6 linked regions of the Homo sapiens genome follow. The protein of the gene in region 1 interacts with the protein of each later gene in a pairwise test. Each region holds a gene or a part of one and is shown in the gene's direction. Other genes may lie near its edges.

Region 1 (2,485 bases):
CCAGCTGCACACTTTATCACTCCCCATCAGCTATCCTCCTAAGAGATGTATTATTGCAGTATATTTGGAGATTCCACAAAGGAGCATGGGCCCTGAAATCAATCACACTGCCTAATTTCAAACCTACCAGTAACTATGTGAGTGACCTCGGTTGAGCTACTCAAACTCATTAAGCCACAGTTTCTTCATTTGTAAAATAGGGAAGAGTCACATAACTCTTCATGTTACTAACGATGATTAAATCATATGGAAAGTGTTCAGCACAGTGCCTTGCCTGTTTCAAATCAGGCATTCAAAGACTGTAAACTTTATTATAATTATAGGACAACATGAAAAGCTTTAGAGCTAAAGAATAAAACTTTCTCACTTTACATGTTTTCCAAATAAACACCCATTGTGTGTGTGTGTGTGTGTGTGTGAATTTGAGACACATGGAACTTAGCAGGGAGTGTGCTTCAGAGGTAATAAATGCTCCCATCAACAACCACACTATTGTGTCTTCTTTGGGTTCTTCAGTATTTAAGTTTACTCTTTGTTTATATTGATGAGCTTTTTGACTTAATTTCAGAGCACTGTTTGCCAGAGTGGATTTTAATAGCACCAGCAATTTGTCACGGCTCTGATAGGTCCACAGAGCAGAGAGGAAAAGAAAGACATAAAATCAAGACCTTAGGTTTGAAACAACAGCAACAAAAAAATTGTTCAGGGCCATTAGGAATCATCCATTCAACATACTCCTTTTTCAGATAAGAAAACTGGAGGCCCAAAGGCATCATAGGAGTTTCCCAAAGCCATTCTACCAACTGTACACGAAGCTGTGACTAAAAGCCCGCGGAGAAGGAAAAGGAGCTTGGGAGCCAAGAAAGAAAAGAAAGGAGGTGGAAGGAAAGTCAAGATGTTATTTTGCAATTTCTCTGAAAGGAGTGAAGAGGGACGTTTGGGATTTCATAATTCATAAAGCTCCTTTAGCAAAAGCCCTTGGAAGTCTGAGAATCAGAGAATAAAGAACATTGGATTGGGAGTCCCATACCCTTTATCCATCACTCTTATCAGTATTGTAGCTATGAGGTTTGTGACAATCTCTTTAATAAGCATTTTTAAGAGTTCAGCTTTTTATTGAACGTGTTATAAAATAGGTTTACTCAAAAAAAAAAAAAAAAAGCCCATATTATCATCAGACTCCAGATTCTTCTTTCTTTGCTTCCACCTTCTTCTTCTCGGCCTAGGCCACAGTGACAGAAGGGCAGGACCTCCCGCAGGTACACCACCAGCTGCTGAGCAGGTCTTCCCACCCCGCCCCTCCACTGCAGAGGAGGCTCCCGAAGTTGACGATGGCCAGGGCCTTGGCAGACAAGCCAGGCCAAAAGCCGTCATCATTTACCCCAGCTGCTTTAGAAACGACATTGACCTTATCCTATGTGATGATCCCCTCAGCGTTATACAGAATGAGGGCTGAGTCAGTGCAGGCGAGCTCTGAGATGGAGTCCGTGGTGTGGACAAGTGCAAGGCTGGGCTGCCCGGAGTAGTGCTAGTGCTGGATGCAGTGAGGGCCTGACCCCAACGCAGCCTCAGCTCAGAAGGGCAGAGCATCTTGGCGGCAGCTGGGAAAAGGCTAAATAAGCATTTTTTAAATTTGTAAATTGAGTAATTGGAGGAGATAATCCTTAAGGTTGTTCCATTTTAAGACTTCACAGTTTTGTTCTTCTGCTGCGAAATGCCCTGTGGCAGTCTCTGCGCAGGATGTGACGGGTCCTGAGGCCTGGTTCCTGCCGTGCACATCAACGGGTAGGGTTTGGGTAGGTAGAGAAGGTGGAAAAGGGCATCAAGGACACAGTGGCCCAACTTGAGAGGACAAAAAAAATGATCAATGACCTGGAGAAAAAGTGTAGTGAGTCTGGCTAGAGAAAAAATAGCAACTAGTCATATTAGAAAGCTGGTTAGACCAGAGGCTGTGGAGGACTCCGAATGTGAAGCAAAGACACACATTTGGGAGACATCGAGGGATATTGACAAAGGGAGCTAACGGTGACATCAAAAGACATCATCTAGGAAAAGTGATTGAGAATCACTGGCCCAACTTTGGCAAGGCCAATATTGTGTAAAGTTGAGATTCTCATCAAAATCCATAATTCTAACATTTGGGAGGGGAGGAATTCATAAACACTGAGGCTGTGTCTGTTGCATAACACTGCATCAGAGAATAAAGGGCATGTTCAGATAACCGAATTTTAATATGGATTACTTGCATGGATTCCAACTTACTTTTCAATTTAGGCAAAACAATTTACATATGTGGACTCAGTCTGAGTTTCACATTTTCATTTGGTAAAACTTCACAGCAGCTGTTGGTCACTGAGAGCCAGTGCAACCCTACCCACTGGGCCTGCTCCTGTAATTAATGACACACGCGGACCAAGTAGGAATGGTCTTTGAAGATATTGCAAAAGGGTGACAGTCATAGGAGCTAGTCAGTCAAATGTGAGAA
Region 2 (4,265 bases), on another chromosome or scaffold:
GGCCTCCCAGAATGCTGGAATTACAAGCGTGAGCCACTGCGCCCGGCCTTTTTTTTTGAGACGGAGTTTCGCTCTTGTTGCCCAGGCTGGAGTGCAGTGATGCGATCTTGGCTCACTGCAACCTCTGCCTCCCGGGTTCAAGCGATTCTTCCTCAGCCTCCCAAGTAACTGGGATTACAGGTGCCCACCACCACTCCCAGCTAATTTTTTTTGTATTGTTAGTAGAGACGGGGTTTCACCATGCTCGTCAGGCTGGTCTCGAACTCCTGTCCTCAGGTGATCTGCCCCCCTTGGCCTCCCAAAGTGCTGGGATAGCGGGGGGCGGCTCACATCTGTAATCCCAGCATGGTCAACATGGTGAAACCCTGTCTCTACTAAAAAATAAAAAAATTAGCCAGGCATGATGGTGCACACCTGTACTCCCAGCTACTTGGGAGGTTGCGGCAGGATAATCGCTTGAACCCGGGAGGCGGAGGTTGCAGTGAGACGAGATCAGCCACTGCACTCCAGCCTGGGCAACAGAGCCAGACCCTATCTCAAAAAAAAAAAAAAAAAAAAAAAAAAAAAAAGAACATAATGTCAGGTAGTGAGGCTGCTGTGGAAAACACTCAACAAGAGGTAAAGAGTAAAGGAGGTCAGGTTAGGAGCGGGGAAGGCAGTTTACCCTGAAGGGACACAGAAGACCTGACGAAGGTGACATTGGAGCCATGGAGGCCCACGGAGAGGGGCGGGGCAGGGGGGGAGAGCCGGGGCAGAGGGGAGAGCTGGGGCCAAGGCCCTGAGGCAGGAACGGGTTCCCTGTGTTGGGAACAGCAGGAGGGCCTGAACAGCCAGAGTGGAGTGGGAGGAAAGAGGGGTAGAAGGTGACATCAGGGACATAAATGGGTGCAGGGGATCACGAAGGGGTCCTCCTCCTGAAACAGCACCTCCAGATTCCCGGGGCTGCTTCTCTCCAGGGTGCCCCGCCTGCTTGGGTGAGGTCCGGATTGTAGCTGTAGTCCTAGCCTGACGGCCCCCCACCCTCCTCTAATGCCTACTTGGGGTCCCTGCACATTGACCCCCAGGCCTGGATATCAGGGCTCAGGGGAGATAACTTGGAGGTTCGCCCTCTGGAACTCCTGAGGATGACCTCCATCATTTGAAGTCGGAAACCCGGCCCCCAAACTGCGCTCTAAGTCCTCCTGTGACTCTGGGGGTGACCTTTCCAGACTCCCTGGGAAGGTGGGGGGGGGGGGGTGGTCCTCAGAGCCCCAGCGGGGTCGGAGACACACAGACCACCCTCCCCGTTCCCAGAAGTCGCGGTCCCTGCGCCACCCGGAGAGGCCGGTGCAGCGGGCGCCTCCCGGGCCGCTGCGGCAAAGGCTGGGCGGCCGCGCCTTCCCCCCGCGGTGATTCATCCCGCCCCCTCCCTCTCCTCCCTCGTCCCTCCCTAGGCCGCCGCCGCCGCCGCCGCCGCCGCCGCTGCAGTGCGCAGGAGACCGCGGTCCGCGCCCGAGCGCGCCCGAGCCGGAGCGGGACCGGGGTCGGTGCACCTAGCGGATGTGCCCGGCTGCGCGCGCCAGCGCAGCAGCCCGAGCAGCGGCCGCCGCCCGCGCGGCGGGGATGCCCGGACGCCGGGCCCCGGGGCTGGGCCCCCGGCGGTAACCGGAGCGGGGGGGCCGCGCCCCCCCTCCTCCCCCCTCGCCGGTCCCAGAGCCGCAGCTGCTGCGCCCGCGCGCTCCCGGGGACATTCTAACCGCCGCCAGGTCCCGCCGCCTCTCGCCCCGCTATTAATACCGGCGGCCCGGGAGGGGGGCGCAGCACGCGCCGCGCAGCCATGGGGAGGCTGCTGGCCTTAGTGGTCGGCGCGGCACTGGGTGAGTGCGCGGGGGGCGCGCGCGGCCGGGGGGCACCGCGGGGGCACTGGCGGGGCGGCGGGAGTGGCGCTCGGGACACGGGGCAGCCGCGCGAGGGCCACCCCCGGCCCATCCCCGGGCCCCGCCAAGTCAGCTTCAGAAGTTGTGCGCGCGGGAGCCGGGCTTGGGGAGGGCAGTGGAGGTGAGGGTGGGCTCCAGCGGGTGGGGGCCGGGCTGGCACAGCCTGGCGGCTGCAGGCGCCCAGCCGGGGGCGAGGAAACGCGGAGTCAGCTGCTCCCGGAGCCCCGCAGGCTGCAATGTGACACCCACAGCCGCGGGAGGGGGGTGGGGGGAAGGCGGCGCCCGGAGACTGGGACGGGAAAGACGGAGGGACAGGGAGAGATGAAGACGGGAGGAAGGGGGCGAGAGACAGAGAAGGACTCGGAGCGCACCGGAGTGGTCCGCTGGGATGCTGGGGACATGGGGGTCAAGGGGGAGACGGAGACAGAGAGAGGGGTATTGGAGAGAGAGAGAGAGAGAGAGAGTTAAGAGACTGAGCGCGATGGAGAAAGGGAAACTTGAGAAAGGCAGAAGGAGATGGAGAGAAGAGAGAGGGAGATGCGGGTGCCCGTGAACACCGGGAGAGAATCTTGCATGGAGTTTGAAAAGGGATAGACGTAGAAAGGTGGAAAGAGATTAGGAGAGGTCTCCTTCTGAGCCCAGAGAGTGGACAAAAAGTGGAGGGACCTTCAGAGAGACCCCTGAGAGGGACAAAGATAGGAGGGACTGAGACAGAGGCCCTCAGGGAGTCTGAAAGGGACCGCAGGGGAGGCGGATGGATGAGAAGTCCTGAGGATCAGGAAACAAGGACAGCACAGGGCTGCAGCAGAAGAGACACAGCGTTAGCTACAGAGTGCTGGGAGGCAGAAAGGAGGTGCCAGGTAAGAGTGTGAAGGAATTCTAAGACTGGAATTCAGTGGGCTGCAAAAGCCCTGGGGCAGGAGAGAGCTCAGGAAAGCTTTGAGTAGTGGATGGGGTTGGGGTGGGAAGAGCTCTAGAGGCGAGGAGCCTGGGGAAGAGGGGATGATGGAGGCAGGAGAGGCCGGGGAGGGGATGGCTCACACAGGGGCTTGTGGGCTGTGGAGAGGGGCTGAGTGTGGGTCAGCCCCGGTTTCAGTGCCCACCTCCCCACAATCCCCCACCCCCAGACCTTTTCTCCCAACCCATTTCTCCTGGAGCTAGCTGGTTTTACAATTTAATGGTGAAAATGACTGCCACCTTAAACTTCTAACTTAGCTGGAATTCTCATTCTACCACCTAGATGCTTGGGTTCCTCCAGCAAGGGACTTTCTGAGGAAGGGGCACTCGGGTAGCATAAAGTCTGAGTTACCGGCAACGTTGACAGTCCCACTTATGGGGCCTCCCATGTACAAGGCCCTACCTAATGTATGAAAATGGGCCCAGCCATTGCTGGAAGCAAAGGACCATTTCTTTCAACAAGAGAGAGGGAAACTGAGACTCAGGGATGAATGACTTGCTGAGGTCACGCAGTGAGTGACAGGGCTCAGCCTAGCATCCAGTCCTGTCTGCTGGTAATCATTGAGGGGGGAACAGATGGTTTGTGAGGGGTCTGGCATTGCTTAGGGCAATGGGTGCCTCTGCCTGACCTGAGCCTGCTGTCCCCACAGTGTCCTCAGCCTGCGGGGGCTGCGTGGAGGTGGACTCGGAGACCGAGGCCGTGTATGGGATGACCTTCAAAATTCTTTGCATCTCCTGCAAGCGCCGCAGCGAGACCAACGCTGAGACCTTCACCGAGTGGACCTTCCGCCAGAAGGGCACTGAGGAGTTTGTCAAGGTGTGCGGGTGCCGGGAACGGGCATGGGAGGGCAGGGGTCCACGAGTGGGAGGCGGTGGGGCTGGATCTCAGGGAGGGGGCTTATTTGTTTAATAATATGCTGTGATTGCTGACCTGGATTCAGATTCTGGCTCCACCAGTGGCCAGCTGGTGACCTTGGCCAAGTCAGTGAGCCTCTCTGAAAGTCAGTTTCCTCCTCGGTAAAGACGGGGTGGCGGTGGTCTCTAGCCCATAGGTTTGTGTGAGGACTGAATGCATTGACGCACCTGGCACACGGTTGGCATGAAATAAATGTCAGTGGACTTATTTGGCACCAGCAAACAATGTCTCTGATAGTCATTACGGAGGGAAGACAGAACTGTTTTTTTTAACCTCCTTTAAACTATGTGTGTATTTTGCATTATATATCGGTGAGGGAACCATAAAATTCTGTGACGTGCTGGAGAGTTGGGGTCTCCAGCTGCTGGAATCAGGCTGCCCTGTCTCTGCTGGAGGAGTGTGTCTGGTGGCTGGGAAAGAACGGCAGAGAATGATAGCCTAGAGGCCAGATGGGGCTTGGGAGGATGACTGAGGAA
Region 3 (3,500 bases), on another chromosome or scaffold:
AACAGAAAACAGTACCTACTTAGACGGACCAAAGCTGGAGACAGTAAATAAGACCCTCTGTTATCTTGACAGGGATCAGGTGCAGGATCATTCCATGACTATGAAATCAGCTGTTGCTGCTTTAGCAGCGTCCATGATTTCTCCTGTTGCCAAGCTTGGCGTATCTCTGAAACATCTACTTTGTTTGGTAGACAATTCATTTTTGAATTGTGAAGGAGCCAGTTGAACTCATGTTAGAGAATATGTGTCTATTTACCAAACTGCCTCTTCAAGGTCAGTTTCAAATTTCTTTTTTTCTTTTTTTTTTTTTATCAGAAGAAATTGACTTATGCAAGAAAGAGACAAAAGTATAAAGCGGACAAGAGAGGTACCTCAATGACAGAGAAGTGTATTGGCTTATCTCACTGGAAATGTACTGGACATGTAGAAATCTGTATACACTAGAGGGAAAAACAATAGGACAGAAAAAGGAAATTGGGGAAAGAAAAATAAAAACACCAAAGTTCTTGAAAGAACACCTTAAAAGAAAAGAATATCAAATTCAGGAAAGATTATAAAAACTTTGGTTAATTTAATGAGATATAAGCATTTTGAGCAATGGCATTTATTATGTACTTATTTTAATTTTCTTTTTCCGTAATTCTGAGTTTGTACAAATGTAATACTTTCTTTCATTTGTATTTCACTTTTTAATTTAATCAGCTCCTCCTTAAGAGTGCTTTGTTTTTTGCCTCTTATTATTAGTAAAATCTTTTACTTTCTGTATTTTTGCTTAACTTTTCCCCATCCTAGTAGCTTTCTCTATTTTTCAGTTATTAGTGCTAGCATTTATTTTTCTTAGAGAATCAAAGGCTTAAAAAATTCACTCATTTATTTTTTAAAATTACAGTATAATATACATTTTTACTGTTAAAATAGTGAATGAACATCTTAATATGTAGCATTTCTATATTTCTACCTAATCCTTATTACTCTGAAATAATTTTAGAATGGTTTATAAAAATAATTATTGGACAATATTGCTGGCTTCATAATTCCTGATTACTGAGAACAAGAACTACAGTCCAAATCTCAAAATAAAAGTGTGTCTCCAGGAGGCACTGATGTTTTCACAAAAGTAAGAGGTATTTAGGGTTTCTCCTACGTTGGGTTCCTGCAAAAACAGGCCCTGAGATGTAGATTTATTGGGGCATCAAGTTTATTGGGTTGTGCTCTCAGGTTCAACCTATTAAGGAAAGAAGAAAGCAGGATTGGGCGGGCAAAGGGAGAAGTTGAACTGTGATGCAATTGCCACAGAGACCTCAGCTGACACCATTAGGAGCTTTAGGGCTGGGATGGCCATGCAGCCATATCCCAAATTGAGGCAAGAGGGCTCAGCCTTTACATCTCTTTATGGACCAGTCATTAGATGTAAGACATTGGATGCAAGCCTGCTCCCAGGATGGGGTATAACCTTGAGTTGGGTGGATCTCTTTGGTCAAGGGCAATTCCTAGAGAGGGATGCAGCTAAGCACTGTCAACCAATAGCCCCAGCAGCTGGAGGAATCAGTGCTTCATTCTTGAAGGACTTTGGAGGGAGCTGTCTGGGTGGAAAACCACAGCATCCACTACAGTAGCTTTTTTTTTTTTTTTTTTTTTGAGACGGAGTCTTGCTCTGTCACCAGGCTGGAGTGCAGTGGCACGATCTCAGCTCACTGCAACCTCTGCTTCAGGGGTTCAAGCTATTCTGCCTCAGCCTCCCAAGTAACTGGGACTACGGGTGCGTGTCACCACACCCGGCTAATTTTTTTTGTATTTTTAGTAGAGATGGGCTTTCACCATGTTGGCCAGGATGGTCTTGATCTCCTGACCTTGTGATCTGCCCACCTCTGCGTCCCAAAGTTCTGGGATTACAGGCGTGAGCCACCACGCCCAGCTTACAGTAGCTTTTGAACAATCATGTTAAATCAGACATAGATAATGTTCTAATCCAACTCCCTCATTTTAAAGATGAAATTTGAAGCTCAGAGACTATCCTAAACATATATACCTGGTCAGTAGCCACCAGACCCTTGGTCTCAATGCTTCATGTTTATATTTGCTGATTAGACCAACCTGTATGAAGCACAAGCTTTATCCAGTGAGTGTTTTCTTTTCCTTTCCGCTCCTTGGCATCTGAAAAATTTTTTCTTTTTTTAATCCACTAGACAGGAAAAAATAAAAACCCGTAAACATCATTTGTTATATAATGAAATGTATAGCTTCTTTTGTTTCTCATAAACTGTCAGTAAGTTCTGCAATTGGTAGTTAATTAAAATTTTTTAAATTGCAGTAATCTGAGACAACTATACTTTTTAATTTGCCTAGCATGATGACTTTAATGACCAAAAAGTTATATAGGTTAAATTTTATGTTCTTAAAATCATGAAGTATGTTAGATTGGTGAAGGACATTACAAGTACATTACATTTGTTCAAACTTTCTCCAAATCCCCTTCCAAAATTTTGCCTCTGACCTCAAGACTTTTAAAAATTTTTTGACATCTTGTCTACTTTCATATTTCTAAATTTTGCCATTCCTTCACTTGTTACTTTCTTATTTTATTTCTTGGCTATTTTTCCTTTCTTTAACTATGTATAATACCTTCTTATAGATTTATGATGTAGCATTCACCATTTTCCAGTAAGATGTTTAACCTTTTTCAGTGTTTTTATTTTTAATTTTTTCGTAGTTAATTTTAAATTTTATTCTCAATAGATTATGATTGAATTTTATAATTTTTCTCTCCCAGCTTCTCTTTTGCTTTATTTTTCTTTTCTACCACAGTTCTTTCTCCTGTACAGCTTGAGCGTTAGCATAATCTGAAGGGAATCGTGGGATTTTGGGGAAGATTTGGGTTTGTGTAGAAAAATATGAGGTACTTCTTGAGTAAAAACTATACTTTTTCTAATTTTCATTCAACTCCTCTTTCTATTTTAATTTGTTGGCCTAAAGCTTGAGGATAGCACCCAGCTTCCAAGGTCTATTGTGAGAAAGGAAGTTTTATGATGTTTAATATTGCCGTGAGTGAGAATGTTCTGGGAACTGTTGTAGTTGATGACTTTTCCCTTTCTATTCCAGGATTATGACATCTTTATGGCCTAATAATAAATCTCATAAAGTCGAAGGACAAATGAAATGGTAGGAAATGCCAGATAGGAGAGAAGAAAATTTGGATAGATCATGGCCGTCCTCCTAGACACATCAGTTTAAAGTGGTTTATTACTTAGCCACAAGAAAAAAACTATACTCAAAACAAAACTTGTATATGTAGTGTGCTTTTATGTGTATTAGGGGAGGTGGAGATATGTGTGGGTGTGGATTGCAATAGGAGAATGGCAGAGGAGTTCTCTACCATACCTACCATTCACTTAGGAATCTAACAAGTGTTTAAAACCAAATAATTTGGGCCAGGTGTGGTGGCACACCCCTGTAATCTCAGCACTTTGGGAGGCCTATGCAGGCAGATTGCTTAAGCCCAG
Region 4 (2,683 bases), on another chromosome or scaffold:
CCTGCAGGTGAGGCCAGCTCTCAGGACATGACTGCACAGGTGACCAGCCCATCGGGCAAGGTGGAAGCCGCAGAGATCGTCGAGGGCGAGGACAGCGCCTACAGCGTGCGCTTTGTGCCCCAGGAAATGGGGCCCCATACGGTCGCTGTCAAGTACCGTGGCCAGCACGTGCCCGGCAGCCCCTTTCAGTTCACTGTGGGGCCGCTGGGTGAAGGTGGTGCCCACAAGGTGCGGGCCGGAGGCACAGGGCTGGAGCGAGGTGTGGCCGGCGTGCCAGGTAAGGGGCAGGTGGCCAGGAGTGGGGATGAAGTCAGGGCAGCCAGTGTGAGGGGCGATGATGCTGAAGTCCACTACCTTGCCTGTCCCCAGCCGAGTTCAGCATCTGGACCCGGGAGGCTGGCGCTGGGGGCCTGTCCATTGCTGTGGAGGGTCCTAGCAAAGCGGAGATTGCATTTGAGGATCGCAAAGATGGCTCCTGCGGCGTCTCCTATGTCGTCCAGGAACCAGGTGGGCGTCCACACTGGCAGTGGGGCTGGGCCTGCCTGACCTTCCAGACTGGGTTTCTGCCCACTGGCCAGGCAGGAGATGCTTGGGGCCACAGAACTCCCCTCCCCGGAGCCCCCTGCTCTTCCTCTGCCCCGTCTCCCTCTACCCCACACCCTCAGAAACATGTGTCTGCCTCCAGATCTGAGCGCTGACCACAGAGCCTTTCCTGGGATAAGGCCAGGGTGGGGAGGCTCCCGCCCTGCCAACCTCCATCCCGGAACCTGTGCTGACTGGTCTCTCTCCCCAGGTGACTATGAGGTCTCCATCAAGTTCAATGATGAGCACATCCCAGACAGCCCCTTTGTGGTGCCTGTGGCCTCCCTCTCGGATGACGCTCGCCGTCTCACTGTCACCAGCCTCCAGGTTTGTGCCCAGGGTGGGGGTGGAGGGTTTCTGCTATCTGAGAGATGGGCAGGAGTTGAGGACAGCAGGTCCATGGGGCCAGGGATTTAGCAGTGACCTTGGAAGGGCCAGTTAGGAGTCCCTTCTCATAAGGCACGAGGCAGGGCCCTTGGGGACGGTGGGCTCCCACCCTGGGGGCTTGCCCGTGCACTCAGGCATGCCACGCCTCGTTCTGCCTTTCTCAGGGTGTGTCTGCCTGTCCTACTGCCACCTGCCATTTCTTGTTACAGTTTGTTCCACCTTCTGTTGTAAGAATGCTAGATGACAACATTTATAAGAATGAGAGCATAAAATCTATACAAACTAAGAGTAAACCAGTTTGCACAGAGGGTGTGAGAGGCTCCTCTAAAGGGAATGCCTATGGGCTGCAGAGCCTGGGCTGCATCCTCTTCAGGCCGCTGGGGGCCTGGCTTGCTTTCTCTTGCTGCTGACTTCTAGAGATGTGGTGTGTTCCTTTCATTCTGTCACAGCGGACATGTGCAAGGAAGGCTTTCAGCAAGTCACACTGAAACATGCAAACCAGGGGGCCAGGTGTCCAGGGGACACATTGTAAAGGAGCTTCTGCATAAGGCGCACAGAATGGGCTTCACCCCACCTCCTTCTCCCACGCGCCTCCTGGCTGCCCCTCAGGGTGGTCACATTGGCCCATCCAGAGTCCTTGTGCATCTCCTCCTCCCACTCCTGAACTGGGCTCCCCGATGCAGGCTCCAATCCCTCCCCCAGAGCCCTTCTGTGCTTCTTCTGGTCCTCCCTGTTGGTCCACCTTCTCCAGGAAGCTCTCCCAGGCCAGGCCAGTGAAACTCAGCTTCCTACCTCAGAGCTCTCTGGCACCCCCAGCCCACACAGCCCATCAGGCACTTGCCCTCCGCCCTCAGCCTGCTTCACACAGAGTGGGGCCCTTCCTTCCTCAGCCAGGACAGGGCACATCGTCTGTCATCTCCCACACACCAAGCACAGCTAGGATAGCAGGTGCACACATAGGGTTGCATACCGGACCCTGGCTCCTCCTGCTCCCAGGCTGGGCTGGCAGGCAGGGGCCAGGCTGGGCATGGGGTGGCAGCAGCCTTTGGGCTGGGCTTACAGTGAGCACCGTGTGGGGCTTCAGAGAAGACTGCTCCAGCCCCGGCCTCCCAGGAGTCTGAGCATCCTCCGTGGCCTTTGCAGGAGACGGGGCTCAAGGTGAACCAGCCAGCGTCCTTTGCCGTGCAGCTGAACGGTGCCCGGGGCGTGATTGATGCCCGGGTGCACACACCCTCGGGGGCTGTGGAGGAGTGCTACGTCTCTGAGCTGGACAGTGGTGAGCTGGCCCTGCCCCTGCCAACTCCCTTCCGGGCTGGGGCCTTCTGGGGAGGGGAAGGATGGAGGCTAAGCCACCAACCCTTTATCCACAGACAAGCACACCATCCGCTTCATCCCCCACGAGAATGGCGTCCACTCCATCGATGTCAAGTTCAACGGTGCCCACATCCCTGGAAGTCCCTTCAAGATCCGCGTTGGGGAGCAGAGCCAGGCTGGGGACCCAGGCTTGGTGTCAGCCTACGGTCCTGGGCTCGAGGGAGGCACTACCGGTGAGTGCCTGGAGCTGGGGAACAGGGTGACTTCTGGGGGTGCTTGGCCACTAGTCTGGTGCTGCTTTGCTCCAGAGGTAGGGGCCCTGCTTCCTAAGCCAGGAGTCCCCACAGAGGCTGTCCAGGGAGCTGGGGCCCAGTCCCTCTTGGGCCACAAGCCCTTCCTG
Region 5 (3,500 bases), on another chromosome or scaffold:
TTTTTGTGAGTTGAGCTGTGGTAAATAACATCACATTTTAGCACGAGGGTTGCCACCTATTAATTCAAACAAGCCAGAGGTCATAGATCTACTTGGTGACTGGTGGAGCTGTGTGGATCTGGTAACTTGGAAGCCATTGTTCACTGCCTCTGCTGATTTGTTGCCACATTTTTCTCATTCATTCTGGACATTGCAGTGGAGGGAGCCACCTCTACTTTTGACTCCTGTCCTTCAGTTTCTCCATCTGCTCATGCGCCCTCTTAACCATGTGGCATGCCACTTTCGTGGTGGCCTCCCCTTTTTATTTGCTGTGGATGACCAGGGCCATCATCCTTTATTCTCTGATGTGGAAACTATTCAAGGGAAGTGAGCAAACTGGGCCAATGGTAGGATGTCATTGCAGAGTGCCAGGATATCCTGATGCTTTGAAGGAAAACCACTGGAGAACTTGGATGCTTTATCATGGTTTTGCCAAAAATATAGCTATTGAGTGGCAGTCACTGTGCTAGGGAATGGCCATCACCTTTTTGTTAGGAAATAATGTTTTATATGCATTTTCAATTGAAGCAAACATACCAAATGGAAGATAATTATATAAATTCACTTATATGATCAACATTTGTAATATCCTGTGCCTTGCTTGGTAAATGGCAAATAAAGATCTCTGGTGCACATTTAAAAGAATGCTCTTTTTTTTTGGGCTCTCTGAAGGTTGACCTGCTCTTTCTTTCTGAACTGCAAGTGCTACATGATATTTCAAGCTTGGTAAGTAGGCTGCTCTAATTTTTTAATTCCATTTATTTTGGTTTCTAGAGAATCCTTGAATAATAGTAAAGGCAGTTGAAAAGTTTGATTAAGTATGCCCTAGATTTATGATCCCATGAAAATTGAAAAATTAGTGGCAATATTGGGAATTTTGAACACATCCATGTTATAGTCAAATTATTTTGCATTTCTGCTTTTTAGGGAGAGACAACATATCTTCCAAGAACACAAGCCTGGGCGTAAGAACACCCTGGCCATAGTCCTAACTTGGCTGTTGATTTCTTGTGAGACTTAATTCCTATCTATATCTTTGGGCCTAAAATAGAAATAATAGTTTGGACTAATAATGCTGTCAGTCAAGTCAAGAAGGGACGAAATCCGTCTGAAGGGTATTTTTTTGGTGAATGATTTTTTAAAAATCATCCTTGTTACTGAAATAGAAATTCTTATCTGTTTGCTACCTTCTGAAGTTGTTTTCCAAACTTTTTCAACAGGTGTTGGTTCGGGGAGTCTGGAAGTGTAGTGCATTCCTGGGATCAAACTGGTCCAGCCATCTGTTCTTTCATACGTTGGCCCATACCTGAGTTTTTAAAACTGAGGAATTTTGTTGAAAGCTTTTATTAAATATCCAAGGAGTCTTGTACTGCTCCTAAACATGAGATTCGTGTTGGATTTATCAGAAACGCTTATTCAAACCAGTTTCTTTTGCCACCATTTTAGACTATTTGCATGTTGTGGTACACTGGTATGGTTTAGTTTAGCCTAGTTTAGTTAGGCATAAAACTTTAACTGGCTGTGTTTGACGTCTTTCATCTTACTTTATCCGCTACCTTTTTTTGTTTGTTTGTTCTCCTAAGCTGTCTCGTCATAAGCATCTAGCCAAGGATCATTCTCCTGATTTATATTCACTGGAGCTGGCAGGTTTGGATGAAATTGGGAAGCGTTATGGGGAAGACTCTGAACAATTCAGAGATGCTTCTAAGATCCTTGTTGACGCTCTGCAAAAGGTAAATATCAATGCGACATGAGAGGTTGGAGTATGACCATTTCACTTTTAGCCTCTTAATAGAAAAATCTGCTGTTTCAAACACTGTTGATTGAACTCTTATTTGCCTTCTTTGGGGCTCCTCTAATTATACTGGCCAAGGATGGAGTAGGGTCAAAAATGTATATTGATATATTTCTTCCTAATGCTAGAAAGAACAGCATTAGGAAAAGTTATCTCACACAAAGCTTTACAAAATTATTGTGGTAAAATATATATAACATAAAATTACCACTTTAACCATTTTTAATTGTACAGTTCAGTGGTATTAAGTGCAAGTACGTTCACATGTTGTACAACCATCACCATCTTCTATTTCTAGAACTTTTTCTTCTTCCCCAACTGAAACTCTGTACTCCTTAAACACTATGAGATAACTGAAGTAGAACACCCAGCACAGTACCAGACAGTAGATGCATAATAAATGCTAGTTCCCCTCTGCCCTTGAAGTTCTTCACCTGCATCCTTTCAGTGAGGCTTCATATTTTAATCTTTATAGATGTTTGTGATTAACCAGAGACCACTTAGGAAGATTTCATTTCTCTTTCCAACTTCCCTTCCTCCAATTTATATGCTGACAAATTCAGTCTCTTCTTAAAGTAATTTTAGTCTAAACATTTGAATATATGTTAAAGCTTAACACTTTTCTGTATAGTTGAGCAAAATCAAAACCTTTAAGACTTGCTTATTGTAAGATGTAGTATATTTCATGAGCCAGGAGGTAAGTGTACATTGTTCTTGTAGCTGCACAAAAGCTTTAAAAATAATTTTAATAAGTATGTATTTGACTCACTGCATAAAATGATAAGTAGGAGGTAATGCATATGTTAATTAGCCAATGTGGACTTAAGCCATTCCACAATGTGTACATATTTCAAAACAATATGTTGATGTGATAAATATATATGATTTTAATTTGTTAATTAAAAATGAAAAAAGTACATAGTTGAGATTCCCAATAATGTTAATAACTAACTTTCAGTTTGCAGATGACATGTACAGTCTTTATGGTGGGAATGCAGTGGTAGAGTTAGTCACTGTCAAGTCATTTGACACCTCCCTCATTAGGAAGACAAGGACTATCCTTGAGGCAAAACAAGCGGTGAGTATATTTTGAGATCCTGCTTTAAAACTGTAAAATTAACTTCTTATAAAAAAAAAAAAACCAAGTCCTATATCACCTAAGGGTGACATGAATGAGCAGTCAGTAAATCTGAAAAACAATTTCAGTTAAAACGTAAGCTTCTTGTTCACATACATATGTGTGCTTTGCCAGTGATGATCAGTTCTTTAGGGTTATAATCAGATAATGCAAGAATTTGAATTAGGGATAAAAGTAAATCTGTCCAAGATTATAATTCAAATATCAGTACACACAAGGAGATATCAGAAGTTAATGTGGCGCCAGGTGCAGTGGCGTGCATCTGTAATTGCAGCTTCTCAGGAGGCCAAGGCAGGAGGATTGCTTTAGCTCAGGAGGAGTTTGAGGCCAGTCTGAGGAAACATAGCAAGACCCTGTTTTGAAAACAAAAAGAAGTGAATGTGTGCGGGAGTGGTGTGGTGCCCACATCCTATGGGCTCTGCTTTTCTAGCAGGCACATTGTCTTTGTGGCGTAGTCCCTCACTTACTGAGATCCTCTGTGTGCACCTCTTTATGATTTTGATTTACTTAACAGTTTTTTTGGGTATG
Region 6 (3,934 bases), on another chromosome or scaffold:
TCTCAGGGTCGGGGACCACAGACACGGGCCTCTGTGTCCTGTGTGGAGTGTGTAGGTTGGGCGTCTCCTTGCTGTTCTCCAGGCCAGCGTGTCTATGTGCTCGGGAGGCAGCTCCCTGCCTAAGTGCAGTCTCTCCCCTTCCTGGGCCCTGATGGGTGGGGAGCAGCACCTCCCTCCTGCCTCCTCAACTGAGCCTGAAGCTGGGGTCATAGGATCAGCAGGGGCTCCAGGAGCTGTCCTGTGACTGATCACAGCCACAAAGCTCCTTCTACCCCCGAGAGCCTCCCCACAAGCACACAGGTGAACAGGTCCCCCTAGATAGCACAGACACATACAGCTGCCCGAGACTTGGCCTCAACCGAAGGGGCACTGTCAGAGGTTCTTAATCTCAGGGGCACCTTCAGGATGCCCCTCCCCTCAGGTATCCAGGGCTGAGGCCTTGGATGCTCCCTTCCAGAATGAGGGCCCTGTCCTACCAGGACTCCCAGTTGGTTAGGAACACACCTGTCTTCCTGTCTGCCTCCACTCTGCCACCGAGAGGATACCAGCCATTCCAAGTACCCACAAGCCTTGCCAAGTGACCCTGCTAGCACCCCTCCATCCAGGACACTCCCTATGGGACAGGGCTGACTTATGGGGATCCCTCTCAGCCACATGTCCCATGCCAGTTCCAGTCCCATCAGGCAAGTCAGCCCTCCCTCAGGCACTGATGCATGGCCAGCCAGGACTCACGGCATAATGAAAAGGACCAGGTCATGGGGCGAGACAAGTCTGCCCTGGGATAGCCCTTAGGAGGTCATATGTAAAGGTAGGAGCTGGAGTCCCTGGAGCCCAAGCATGAAAGTGTTTGCATGTTGTGACTGTGTGTGTCTGTGGTGGGGGCAGGGCTTACAAGCCTGGAGAGGCTGGTGGGACCACCAGGAGTCTTCCTGGAAGAGGGAAGTCCTGGGTAGCAGTGAGAGAGAGGCACAGGCTCTCTAGGAGCCAGGGGAGGCAGGCTGAAGAGAGGCCCAGGTGTCCCTGTCTGAGCCTATGCTACTGGACACCCTCCCCCCACCCAGCACCCGCCCCCCTTCAAGGATCCTCCCTGCGGCTCCCTGTGGCCAGCAGCTCTGCAGCACTCGGCTCTGCTCCACTCTGCTCAGCTCCGCTCCAGGAAGGCCACCTCCTCCTCCCCCTCCTCCTCCCGCTGTCACCACTCACCGCTCATAACCTCAAGGGGGTGGGGACCCCAGGGCTGGACACACCCCACCGTGGCCCCAGAGCTCAGCCGGTCGCACGGACGGACAGTTGGAAGCCGGACCCCAGAGCCTGAGGTGGGCAGTGTGCCAGGGTCCCTTGCGGCCTCCTCAAGGTCAGTGCCAGCTGGGGATGCAGCTACTCTGGGGCTCTTGAGACTTGTGGGGCACACCCCAGGCCCTCATCCCAAATCACAGGCCCCAAAAGGGGCTTTACCCCCGGGGCATCTGGGGCAGGCAGGACCAGGGGAAAGGGTATGCCCCCGTGTCCACAGGCCAGCCCTGGTCTGGGGGTCTATCAGGAGAGGCCCCAGGCTGGGGGCCAGCTCCTTGCAGAGGCCTCACTGGGGACACCCCGCACCGGCCATGGGGAGCTAAAATTGGAAAGTGGCGAGTGGGAGGCAGCTGACAAAGCTATTTCACGGGCTCTTCACCATGCTCCGGTTTCAAGCTCCTGCTCCATTAACCTGATCCCCAGGGCCTCTCCACCCCCACCCAACTGATGAGGAGGTGCCTCCACCCTCAGGCCGACAGCACAGCCATCAGGCTGGCAGCCTCTGCTGTGGGCAGGGGCAGTGGTGGTCTTCTCTTACCCCAGATTCCAGAGGGGGGTCACTGAGAAACCCAATCCTGAAGGGAGGCAGGCAGAAGTCTGTCCCAGGTCTGCCATGTGACCTTGACAGGTCCCTGCCCCTATCTGGCCCATGACCCCTCCATCTGTACGAGGAGACCGTCGGCTGCTGGGGGGCCCAGGGGAGATGGCTACAGGGCTGGGGATGAAGATTTAGGGGAGGATCAAGGGTGGGCAAAAGGGCCACATCAGCCACCTCTTGGCCCCGTCAGCCCAAGAGTTGCCTGGACATGTTCCCTGCTTCCTCCCTTTAATTTGGGTCCTATGTCTGTATCCATGGAGTCCTTGGGAAGCCCCTGAGCCAGGCTGAAGCGGGATAGGAAGGGTAAAGGTGCTAGCTGAGCCGTAGTACGGCCCAGCAGTTCTCCAGGGGACAAGCTAGGCCCCCGCTGGAGGGAGTGGTGAGACTCAGCCGGGGCCTGATTCTGGTCAGCACCTTGGACAGCAGCCAGTGCCCTCCCTGGCCCCGCCTGGCCCCGCCTGGCCCCACATCCGCTACTCCTGGGCACCTCCTCAAATAGCACAGCCTCCAGCTGGTGCCCAGGGCCTGAATACACAGAGCGCTGAGAGAGTGGGGCAGTGTGGTCACGGACACAGGCAGGGACTGGGATGTGACAGGCTGGAGCTCAGGGACTTGTTGGGGGAATGGGGGTCAGTGACAGGCTGGAGGCTTAATGCGAGGATGGAGGCTTGGCTCTAGGGGCAGCACCTGGGGTGGTCATGGGATCTCAGGGAGGGGAGTGGGAGTCAGAGAAAGGGTCTTAGAGAAGCTGGGGCTTTGTGAGGAGCTAAGGGAGACTCACTGATCGAGGTGGGGACCCTGCAGGCAGAAACCTGACTGTAGTGATAGAGGTGGGGTTTCTCCGCACGCAGGTCATGGGGGCCTTGGCAGGAGCGGTTTTGGCAGAGGGTGGGGCCGGTGCCTCTGGAAGGTATGAAGATGTAAATGAAGGTGAGGGAGGCAGGCTGCGAGTGAGGGCTCTGCGGGCAAGAGCCTTGATGGGTGGGGTGGGGGCAAGAGCAGCAGCTGGGATGGGGCACTGGTGTTCGGTGGCCTGTGAACTGTGGGGGGCACAGGGGCAGGCAGAGTGATGGTACAAGGTCCCCAAGGGGCTGGAGGGGCAATCTCTCTTCAGAGTGGGTCCCCACTGGGGTGGTGGGACCATGAGGTGGGGCTAGGCTTGGCTGGAGACTGTAATTCCCTCACCCAACCTGTCTCCCCAGCCCTGTCCAGGCTATGGGCATCAAGACAGCATTGCCGGCGGCTGAGCTGGGCCTCTACTCTCTGGTGCTGAGTGGGGCCCTGGCCTATGCTGGCCGGGGCCTCCTTGAGGCTTCACAAGGTAATGGCTGTGCCCCGGGGCAGGTGGACAGGACCCTTCTTCCCCTGGAGGCCTCAGGGTTCCAACCAGCAAAGCCAGAAAGTTACAGGCTCCAGACCTAGGGTACTCCTTCTAGAACACGGCTGGATCTCCCTTTTCAGCCCGGGGTTCCCATCTCAGATAGTCACTGGAGGCTGGGTGGAGCCAGGTTCAGTCACAGGAACACAGAGATGCAGAGACACTGACAGAGAGATGGACACAGAGTCACACACATAGACACACACACACACACACACAGAGGCCTGGACCCAGACACACACACACAGAGACCTAGACCCAGACATACACACACACACATCCCGACACACACACACACACACAGAGACCTAGACCCAGACACACACACAAACACACAGACATATACACACACCCCCCAACACACACACACACACATACACACACAGAGACCTGGACCCAGACACACACACACAGAGAGAGACCTGGATGCAGACACACACACAAACACACAGACATATACACACACACCCCAACACACACACACACACACACACACACAGAGTCCTGGACCCAGACACACACACACAGAGACCTAGACCCAGACATACACACACACACATCCCGACACACACACACACACACAGAGACCTGGACCCCGACACACACACAAACACACAGACATATACACACACACCCCAACACACACACACACACACAGAGTCCTG

Evidence for each region.
Region 2: the proteins of ADRA1A (region 1) and SCN1B interact in a two-hybrid assay, tested with the Homo sapiens proteins (one large-scale study listed by BioGRID and IntAct).
Region 3: the proteins of ADRA1A (region 1) and GPR37 interact in a two-hybrid assay, tested with the Homo sapiens proteins (one large-scale study listed by BioGRID and IntAct).
Region 4: the proteins of ADRA1A (region 1) and FLNC interact in a two-hybrid assay, tested with the Homo sapiens proteins (one study listed by IntAct).
Region 5: the proteins of ADRA1A (region 1) and ATP6AP2 interact in a two-hybrid assay, tested with the Homo sapiens proteins (one large-scale study listed by BioGRID and IntAct).
Region 6: the proteins of ADRA1A (region 1) and HHATL interact in a two-hybrid assay, tested with the Homo sapiens proteins (one large-scale study listed by BioGRID and IntAct).

What each region holds. Positions count from the first base shown.
Region 1 is NC_000008.11:26,770,794-26,773,278, reverse strand, and holds part of ADRA1A (alpha-1A adrenergic receptor), read left to right. Parts: intron 1-2,485. UniProt on the Homo sapiens protein: This alpha-adrenergic receptor mediates its action by association with G proteins that activate a phosphatidylinositol-calcium second messenger system. Its effect is mediated by G(q) and G(11) proteins.
Region 2 is NC_000019.10:35,029,005-35,033,269, forward strand, and holds the start of SCN1B (sodium channel regulatory subunit beta-1 isoform a precursor), read left to right. Parts: upstream 1-1,465; 5' UTR 1,466-1,816; coding exon 1,817-1,856; intron 1,857-2,266; exon of another isoform or gene 2,267-2,776; intron 2,777-3,523; coding exon 3,524-3,690; intron 3,691-4,265. UniProt on the Homo sapiens protein: Regulatory subunit of multiple voltage-gated sodium (Nav) channels directly mediating the depolarization of excitable membranes.
Region 3 is NC_000007.14:124,759,293-124,762,792, reverse strand, and holds part of GPR37 (prosaposin receptor GPR37 precursor), read left to right. Parts: intron 1-3,500.
Region 4 is NC_000007.14:128,854,406-128,857,088, forward strand, and holds part of FLNC (filamin-C), read left to right. Parts: intron 1-7; coding exon 8-277; intron 278-369; coding exon 370-507; intron 508-793; coding exon 794-909; intron 910-2,112; coding exon 2,113-2,245; intron 2,246-2,339; coding exon 2,340-2,516; intron 2,517-2,683.
Region 5 is NC_000023.11:40,597,970-40,601,469, forward strand, and holds part of ATP6AP2 (renin receptor precursor), read left to right. Parts: intron 1-711; coding exon 712-765; intron 766-1,622; coding exon 1,623-1,772; intron 1,773-2,792; coding exon 2,793-2,912; intron 2,913-3,500. UniProt on the Homo sapiens protein: Multifunctional protein which functions as a renin, prorenin cellular receptor and is involved in the assembly of the lysosomal proton-transporting V-type ATPase (V-ATPase) and the acidification of the endo-lysosomal system.
Region 6 is NC_000003.12:42,699,999-42,703,932, reverse strand, and holds the start of HHATL (protein-cysteine N-palmitoyltransferase HHAT-like protein), read left to right. Parts: upstream 1-1,134; 5' UTR 1,135-1,354; exon of another isoform or gene 1,355-1,392; intron 1,393-2,411; exon of another isoform or gene 2,412-2,466; intron 2,467-2,742; exon of another isoform or gene 2,743-2,745; coding exon of another isoform or gene 2,746-2,801; exon of another isoform or gene 2,802-2,821; intron 2,822-3,093; coding exon of another isoform or gene 3,094-3,106; coding exon 3,107-3,212; intron 3,213-3,934.